Homo sapiens: one gene and its partner. Changing the gene in region 1 together with any one later gene gives a genetic interaction. Each region holds a gene or a part of one and is shown on either strand. Other genes may lie near its edges.

What was found. A genetic interaction does not mean that the proteins touch.
Region 2: changes in MCM3AP (region 1) and PNN together harm fitness more than expected from each alone (negative genetic interaction), as found in Homo sapiens cells (one large-scale study listed by BioGRID).

What each region holds. Positions count from the first base shown.
Region 1 is NC_000021.9:46,233,773-46,238,724, forward strand, and holds the end of MCM3AP (germinal-center associated nuclear protein), read right to left. Parts: intron 3,208-4,952; coding exon 3,057-3,207; intron 2,555-3,056; exon of another isoform or gene 2,452-2,554; intron 1,655-2,451; coding exon 1,496-1,654; 3' UTR 1,361-1,495; downstream 1-1,360.
Region 2 is NC_000014.9:39,180,780-39,183,757, forward strand, and holds the end of PNN (pinin), read left to right. Parts: coding exon 1-1,084; 3' UTR 1,085-2,441; downstream 2,442-2,978. UniProt on the Homo sapiens protein: Transcriptional activator binding to the E-box 1 core sequence of the E-cadherin promoter gene; the core-binding sequence is 5'CAGGTG-3'. Capable of reversing CTBP1-mediated transcription repression.

The sequences.
Region 1 (4,952 bases):
TTGGGAAGAGCTTTACATTTAGGGCAGCGACTTTTGGGTAAAGTAGTGACAAGAGCATAGAAAACCAAGCAAATGAGAAAAACAATGTAATTAACTCCAGGAAAAATCAAAAGTTGTACCTAAAGGAAATGTAATCATAAACCAATAAAGGGCTCAACAGGAAATGGTAAACATACAGTTATACTAAACTGTGAATGCAGGTTTCAGCCAATATCAAACTGCTTAGGGAGACTAATAGGAGAGGAAATGTGGGTGTCGAGGGTGGGGGTGATAATATGTTGTGGGAAAGACAGTGTAAGAGAAGCTAACTCCTCTTCCATTGTAGGAAGTCAACAATGTCAAGTCAAGATTAAGAAATAGCATTATTTAAGTCTTTACATGAAGCTAATCACTAAAGATCCCTGAGTTGAGTAGTGTGTGTTTGGAGAAGCAGGGATTGATTTGGTGGAGGAAGAGGTTCTCTTCTTAGTGCTGTTGTTTTCTCAGTGAAATAAGGAGGACATGATCTAAGAATGTTGGAGGTTTGAAGAGAATGAGAAGACATGAAATAGAGTCTGGGGATGTAGGATTACAGTCAGGAGATGCTGAGTGCCAGTTTAAGATTGGTGGTCATACGCAACATCACCAAGTCTATTAATACCTCTTTCTGTATATGGCTCAAATTTTATCCCCTCTCTTCACACCAATTGCTAACAAACTCACGCTTATTCCCTTTGAATTTCACCTGGATGGCTGCAGCACCCACCTCTCAAGATTCCTGCCCTACATGCCATTCTTAAAAGAAAATGTGACCAGATCACTTCTCTGCCTAATCTTCAACAACGGGTTCTCACAGCTCTCAGAAGAAGGTGACAAGAATCTCTGACCTCACCCTGCTGGCCTGTTCCCCTCACCTGGCCACACAACCAAGCTGGTACCTCCACGCTTTCATCATGTCCTCTCAAGTACACTGTCTCCAGCTACACCCCTGCACTCCTCTCCGGGAATTCTGTTTCTCCTCTACCCAACCAGACCCTGTTCCATCCTCTGTTTTTTCCTTGCTACCAATTCAGGCCCACGCCTCATGCACATTCTCTGAGAATTATGTACATAAGTACCTGACTCTCCTGGATGTAAGCTGGGTGGGCTTAGCAGGCAGAGGCCCTGTGTCTTACTTTATCTCTGCATCACTGATGTCTGGCACATCAAGGACTGCAAGTTTGCTGAGAGAATGAATCGCCTTTTATACATGGAAATGTAAGCTCTAAACTGCCTCAGAGCATATGCTGGTGGGTGACAATCTGAGGAGGTCATGAATATAGGAGAATATTGAAGAGGTCACACAGGGGAAACAACTTTTCATTATGAAAAACTGGGAGACTGACATTTAAATGGTTTATCTGCATGATTAAATTAATCACATTTCCAACAGTGCATCAAGCATCTGAGAATAACATTATTTTGAGTAAAAACAGAAACTCTTCGGGAGAGACCCCCTCCCCACAGGTCAGGCTGCTCAAATGTCCACCATGTCTAGCAGCGCAGAGAGATGGAGCTCAGAGGCAACTTCCTCTTCCCTTGAACTCCGGATCAGCCTTTCCAGGTGCTTTAGTCGTTCGCCTAGACACGTTCCTGTCGCCTCTGACAGCTGCAGTTGCTCCCTCATCATGTCACTCTATTTGAATAAAAAAGAAACTGAACAGTTTTGGGATGTCAATAAACCACGACCTATCTCTGGGAAGGTACTAGATCTGGATCATGTTAGAAACCTCATCTGAGTAGTCATTTATTTTTACAGAGGGAAAAAAATTATCCTTTGTATATCCTTCCAGCCTCATTTAGCTCGTACATTCAGCTGGTATCTGTATATAGACTGTTTGCCTTTGTATTCTATCATGAACAATTTCCAGTGTCAGTCATTTTTCACCCAGGCTGGAACGCAGTGGTATGATCGGAGCTTACTGCAGCCTCAAACTCCTGGGCTCAAGTGATCCTACCAGCTCAGCCTCCTGAGTAGCTGGGACAACAGGCATGTAGCACCATGCCTGGCTAATTATGTACTGTAGAGATGAGATCTCTTTATGTTGCCCAGGCTGGACTCAAGCTCCTGGACTTAAGCGATCCTCCCTCATCAGCCTCCCAAAGTGCTGGGATTACAGGCATGAGCCACCACGCCCAGCCAGTCATTTTTAGAAAATATCATCGTCAAGGGCTGTGAATTATTCTATCACATGAATGTGTTATAATTGTTTAATCAGACTCCCATCTTCGGATATTTATTCTGTTTCGACTTTCATACAATAATGCTACAGTAAACATTTTTATACATTAATTTTTGGGGAATATCTGGTAGGTCAGAATTCTTTAGGTTAGAATTGGTAATTCAAAGGGTATGAATATTTTTAAAGTATTTGCCAAACTGATGAATGGAAACAGTACATCATTTTAATTTGCTTTTCTCCTCTATTGAAGGACTTCCTAAAGCCAGTCCAGGAGCACAGTTTTTACCTGTTCAGTGGCACATATCTGTGATTGAAACTCTGTTTTTGCATCTTTAACCACTGAAGGAAGAATGGTAAGGTAAAAAGACCTTAGGCTTTGGAGCCAGTTGGATCTGGCTTTGAAAAGCAACCTGACCACTCACTACTTGAACACTCTTGGGTGAGGCTCTTGACTTCTGGGAGCTTACCTTCCTCATTCATTAGTTTTCCTCAGGAAAAATTAATCCCAGAAGAGAGGTCTGGGTAATGCCAAAGCTCAGACAATATGTGCTCCAACAGAAGCTGCTGTCATCACCTTAATGCCCTTAATTACACATCAGCACACAGTTACAGGTCTTATTCAGTTCTTAAGAATATTTCAATTCTATTCTTCATTTATTTCGTAGGCAGAAACTCAAAATCAGTTGGGTCTCTTTAACAATGATATGGATAAAGTTTAAGAAAAGGTCTAATTTGAGCTAATAATTTGTCGGTCATCAAAACATCATAGGATAAATCGTGATATTACTTTTTTCCCCAGCCATTCTCTCAATCTTTAATTCTTATGTAAATGCCAAATGTATACGTTCTTCTCACCTGTGGGCTAGTAGTTACAGATGTTTTCATCACAGGTTCAATAGTGTGAGAAAGAGACACTAGAGTCTGAGGAAGATAGAGGGGAAGGGAAGTTAAATCCGTAAATGCTCCTGAGTCTTCAGACAACCATTGCTGAAGCTGATCTTCAAACCTGAAACAATATGTAATAAATTCAAAAATATTTGAGCATTAGGAAGTTAACTATTGTTCATTAATCTTCTATATATACTTAAAAACTTTTTAAGCCTTTGCTTTTTTAAAATTTTATATAATTTTTTTTTTTTTTTTTTTGAGACAGAGTCTCACTCTGTTGCCCAGGCTGGAGTGCAGTGGCATAATCTCGGGTCAGTGCAACCTCTGCCTCCCAGGTTCAAGTGATTCTCCTGCGTCAGCCTCCTGAGTAGCTGGGATTATAGGCAAGTGCCACTGTGCCCAGCTAATTTTTTGTACTTTTAGTAGAGATGGGGTTTCACCATATTGCCCAAGCTGGTCTTGAACTCCTGACCTCAGGTGATCCACCCACCTCGGCCTCCCAAAGTGCTGGGATTACAGGAGTGAGCCACTGTGCTTGGCCAATTTTATTATTATTTTTTTTTGACAAGGTCTCGCTCTGTTGGCCAGGCCGGAGTGCAGTGTTACAATCTTGGCTCACTGCAACCTTGACCTCCCAAGCTCAAATGATCTCACCTCAGCCTCCCAAATACCTGGGACTAGAGGCGCATGCCACCCAGCTAATTTTTGTATTTTTTTGTAGAAACGGGATTTTGCTGTATTGTCAGGCTAGTCTACAACTCCTGAACTCAAGTGATGTGCACACCTCAGCCTCCCAAAGTGCTGGGATTATAGGCATGAGTCACCACACCCAGCCTTAAGCCTTTGCTTTTTACTAAGAATATAACTAAGTTATGACATCAACTGAGAAGCAGAAATGTACTTATTAAAAATTTAACAACTTCCTATGATAAAGCTTAATTTAAAAAAAAAAACTAGGCTGGGCTCGGTGGCTCATGCCTGTAATCCCAACACTTTGGGAGGCCGAGGCGGGCAGATCACCTGAGGTCAGGAGTTCAAGATCAGCCTGATCAACATGGTGAAACCCCGTCTCTACTAAAAATACAAAAATTAGCCAGGCATGGTGACACGTGCCTGTAATCCCAGCTACTTGGGAGGCTGAGGCAGGAGAACTGCCTGAACCCGGGAGGCGGAGGTTGCAGTGAGCCAGATCACGCCATTGCACTCCAGCCAGGGCAACAAGAGCAAAACTCCATCTCAAAAAAAAAAAAAAAAAAATTAGAGAAACCACTTCCCTTTAATTTATAAATCCAATTCCAATTTATATTTAATGAAAAAGGTGGTATTAATCCAAAAACAACTGCTTCGATGTGTTACTTAACATTACTTGTAATTGTCTTGTTTGGCTTATCTTATTTAATTTACTTTGGTTTTATGCATCTATAATTAATTCTTCTGACATTTTCCAAATGAGTGGATTGCTGCTTATAGCTTAAAATTAACTCAAAATAATATCCCACTGCCACCTAACATACTCTAGAGCTGTCTACTTCCATATACCGGTCTTTTCAAGAAAAACAATCTTGGCCAGGTGCAGTGGCTCATGCCTGTAATCCCAGCACTTTGGGAGGCCAAGGCAGGTGGATCACCTGAGGTCAGGAGTTCAAGACCAGCCTGGCCAACATGGTGAAACTGCGTCTCTACTAAAAATACAAAAATCAGCCAGGCATGGTGATGGGTACCTGTAGTCCCAGCTACTTGGGAGGCTGGGGCAGGAGAACTGCTTGAACCTGGGAGGTGGAGGTTGCAGTGAGTCGAGATTGTGCCACTGCACTCTAGCCTGGGCAACAGAGCGAGACTCTATCTAATAAAAAGGAAAAAAAA
Region 2 (2,978 bases), on another chromosome or scaffold:
ACAAAAACAGGAAATGGAGGTTAAGATGGAGGAGGAAACTGAGGTAAGGGAAAGTGAGAAGCAGCAGGATAGTCAGCCTGAAGAAGTTATGGATGTGCTAGAGATGGTTGAGAATGTCAAACATGTAATTGCTGACCAGGAGGTAATGGAAACTAATCGAGTTGAAAGTGTAGAACCTTCAGAAAATGAAGCTAGCAAAGAATTGGAACCAGAAATGGAATTTGAAATTGAGCCAGATAAAGAATGTAAAACCCTTTCTCCTGGGAAAGAGAATGTCAGTGCTTTAGACATGGAAAAGGAGTCTGAGGAAAAAGAAGAAAAAGAATCTGAGCCCCAACCTGAGCCTGTGGCTCAACCTCAGCCTCAGTCTCAGCCCCAGCTTCAGCTTCAATCCCAGTCCCAACCAGTACTCCAGTCCCAGCCTCCCTCTCAGCCTGAGGATTTGTCATTAGCTGTTTTACAGCCAACACCCCAAGTTACTCAGGAGCAAGGGCATTTACTACCTGAGAGGAAGGATTTTCCTGTAGAGTCTGTAAAACTCACTGAGGTACCAGTAGAGCCAGTCTTGACAGTACATCCAGAGAGCAAGAGCAAAACCAAAACTAGGAGCAGAAGTAGAGGTCGAGCTAGAAATAAAACAAGCAAGAGTAGAAGTCGAAGCAGTAGCAGTAGCAGTTCTAGTAGCAGTTCAACCAGTAGCAGCAGTGGAAGTAGTTCCAGCAGTGGAAGTAGTAGCAGTCGCAGTAGTTCCAGTAGCAGCTCCAGTACAAGTGGCAGCAGCAGCAGAGATAGTAGCAGTAGCACTAGTAGTAGTAGTGAGAGTAGAAGTCGGAGTAGGGGCCGGGGACATAATAGAGATAGAAAGCACAGAAGGAGCGTGGATCGGAAGAGAAGGGATACTTCAGGACTAGAAAGAAGTCACAAATCTTCAAAAGGTGGTAGTAGTAGAGATACAAAAGGATCAAAGGATAAGAATTCCCGGTCCGACAGAAAGAGGTCTATATCAGAGAGTAGTCGATCAGGCAAAAGATCTTCAAGAAGTGAAAGAGACCGAAAATCAGACAGGAAAGACAAAAGGCGTTAATGGAAGAAGCCAGGCTTTCTTAGCCATTCTTTGCAGCAGAAGATTTCTTGATAAAAAAGGATTACCTTTCCTTGTAAAGAGGATGCTGCCTTAAGAATTGCATGTTGTAAAAAATCTTTTTGGAAAATACAGACTGTTTGTTTACCAGACATTCTTGTACTTTTTGCATAATTTTGTAAGAGTTATTTATCAAAATTATGTGAGGTTCCAAAATATGTAAAAATGATAATAATAAAAAAAGATTAACATCCCTTGTCATCTTTTTTAAATATCCTATACTCTTCAGTAAGAATCTGTATATTTTAATAGGCAAATCTTTAAGTCTGTTCCCTTCTAATTCTGTATCATACATTGCTTTTGTAGAAATAAATGTGTGTTTATTTCATTATTTTTGGGATGTCCTCGTTGACACTTGTATAATAAATATCCTCTTTATCATTTTCAGCTTTTAACACTAGATACTGCACGTGATTAGAATGTTTTTGAAGGTTTCCTCGTTTTTATTTGCCTTGGACAGTTTTTAGTTGTCAGAGTCAGAGCTTTGCAGCTTTGAGGGGGAACAGTTCTCTTTAAAATCATTTGCTATTTTCTATTCTCCCTTGTTATTTTAATCTAAGCATTTTCCCCCGTTTCTCATATTTTAACCATATGTTCGGTAGATAACTAAACAGTATGATCTGGTTGGCATTTTCTTCCTGATGATGGGAGCGTCATTCTTTTGTCTTCATGGTTACTTGTGTGATATAACATACATCTGTTAAAGAAAATCACTTCTTTCTAGGGGAGGGAGGTAGAAAAGTATCTTTCAAACTTGGTTTTTGAGTTTGTGTCTTGTCTTAACTTTGTGTTGGCTCTAACTTAAACATGCTGATATGTGTTTTCAAGAATTTTGTTTAAGGAAGTATTGTATGGAAGTCCACAAAATGAAGGAAGTTCATCTAGGTTTTAATATGTAAGCAAGATAACACACAAGTGTACCAAGTGATTATTAACTTTGTTGTTTTACAAATTTGTATGAACTTGGAGTATCTGTTGGCCATTACTATACATGTGCAAATAAATGTGGCTTAGACTTGTGTGACTGCTTAAGACTAGTACTTGTATTAACTTTCTGATGCTTTATACAAGAGAGCACTTAAATTGCATCCTTCTTTGAGTTTAACACTGTAGCTTTAGCCTTGACTTTGAATATTCATTTTGCCTTCCCTTGACAAGTAAATGGTTACAGTGAAAATGTGAAGAAGTATTTCCAGTTAGTTTTTGTGTGTATATAACTCACTTGTGTAAGTGGATGTGTTAAAAGATCTCTTTTTAAAAATCCTTTTATTGGAGTAATTATTAAAACAGTAAATGCATAGAGCTTTGCACAGCAATCTGTATCCATGAGCCAGTTCCACCACTAGTACCTTCATCTGTGGCTTATCCAGCAAAATGTTTCATTTCCTGTGTGCCCTGGCAGGAAAGAGGTTGGTAAATAGTGAATTAAAGGGATGATCATAAAATTTAACCTGGTTAAAAAGCACCTTATTTGATGACAGTTTGTATGCACTAAAATCCTTTATACAAATTAAGTTTTGTCTACTGATTTGTACCTGGAAAATCTGAACAATATTCATGTTGCTTACAGAAAAGGCTAGTATTGGCTTGAAGCTCTACTATAGGAGGGGTAGTAATGGGGGTATAATGAATGCTTGAGGGGAAAGTAATTTTCAGTAATTTCAGTTAAGCGCTACTGATCATAGTATGTGAAAGGAATTTTTCTTATATGGAATGCTTGATGAATTTGCATGTCATCCTTGTGCAGGGGCCATTTTAATCTTTTTTTTTTTTTTTTTTTTTCTCGGAGACAGGGTCTTAGTCTGTCACCCAGGCTGGAGTGCAGTGGCACAAACAA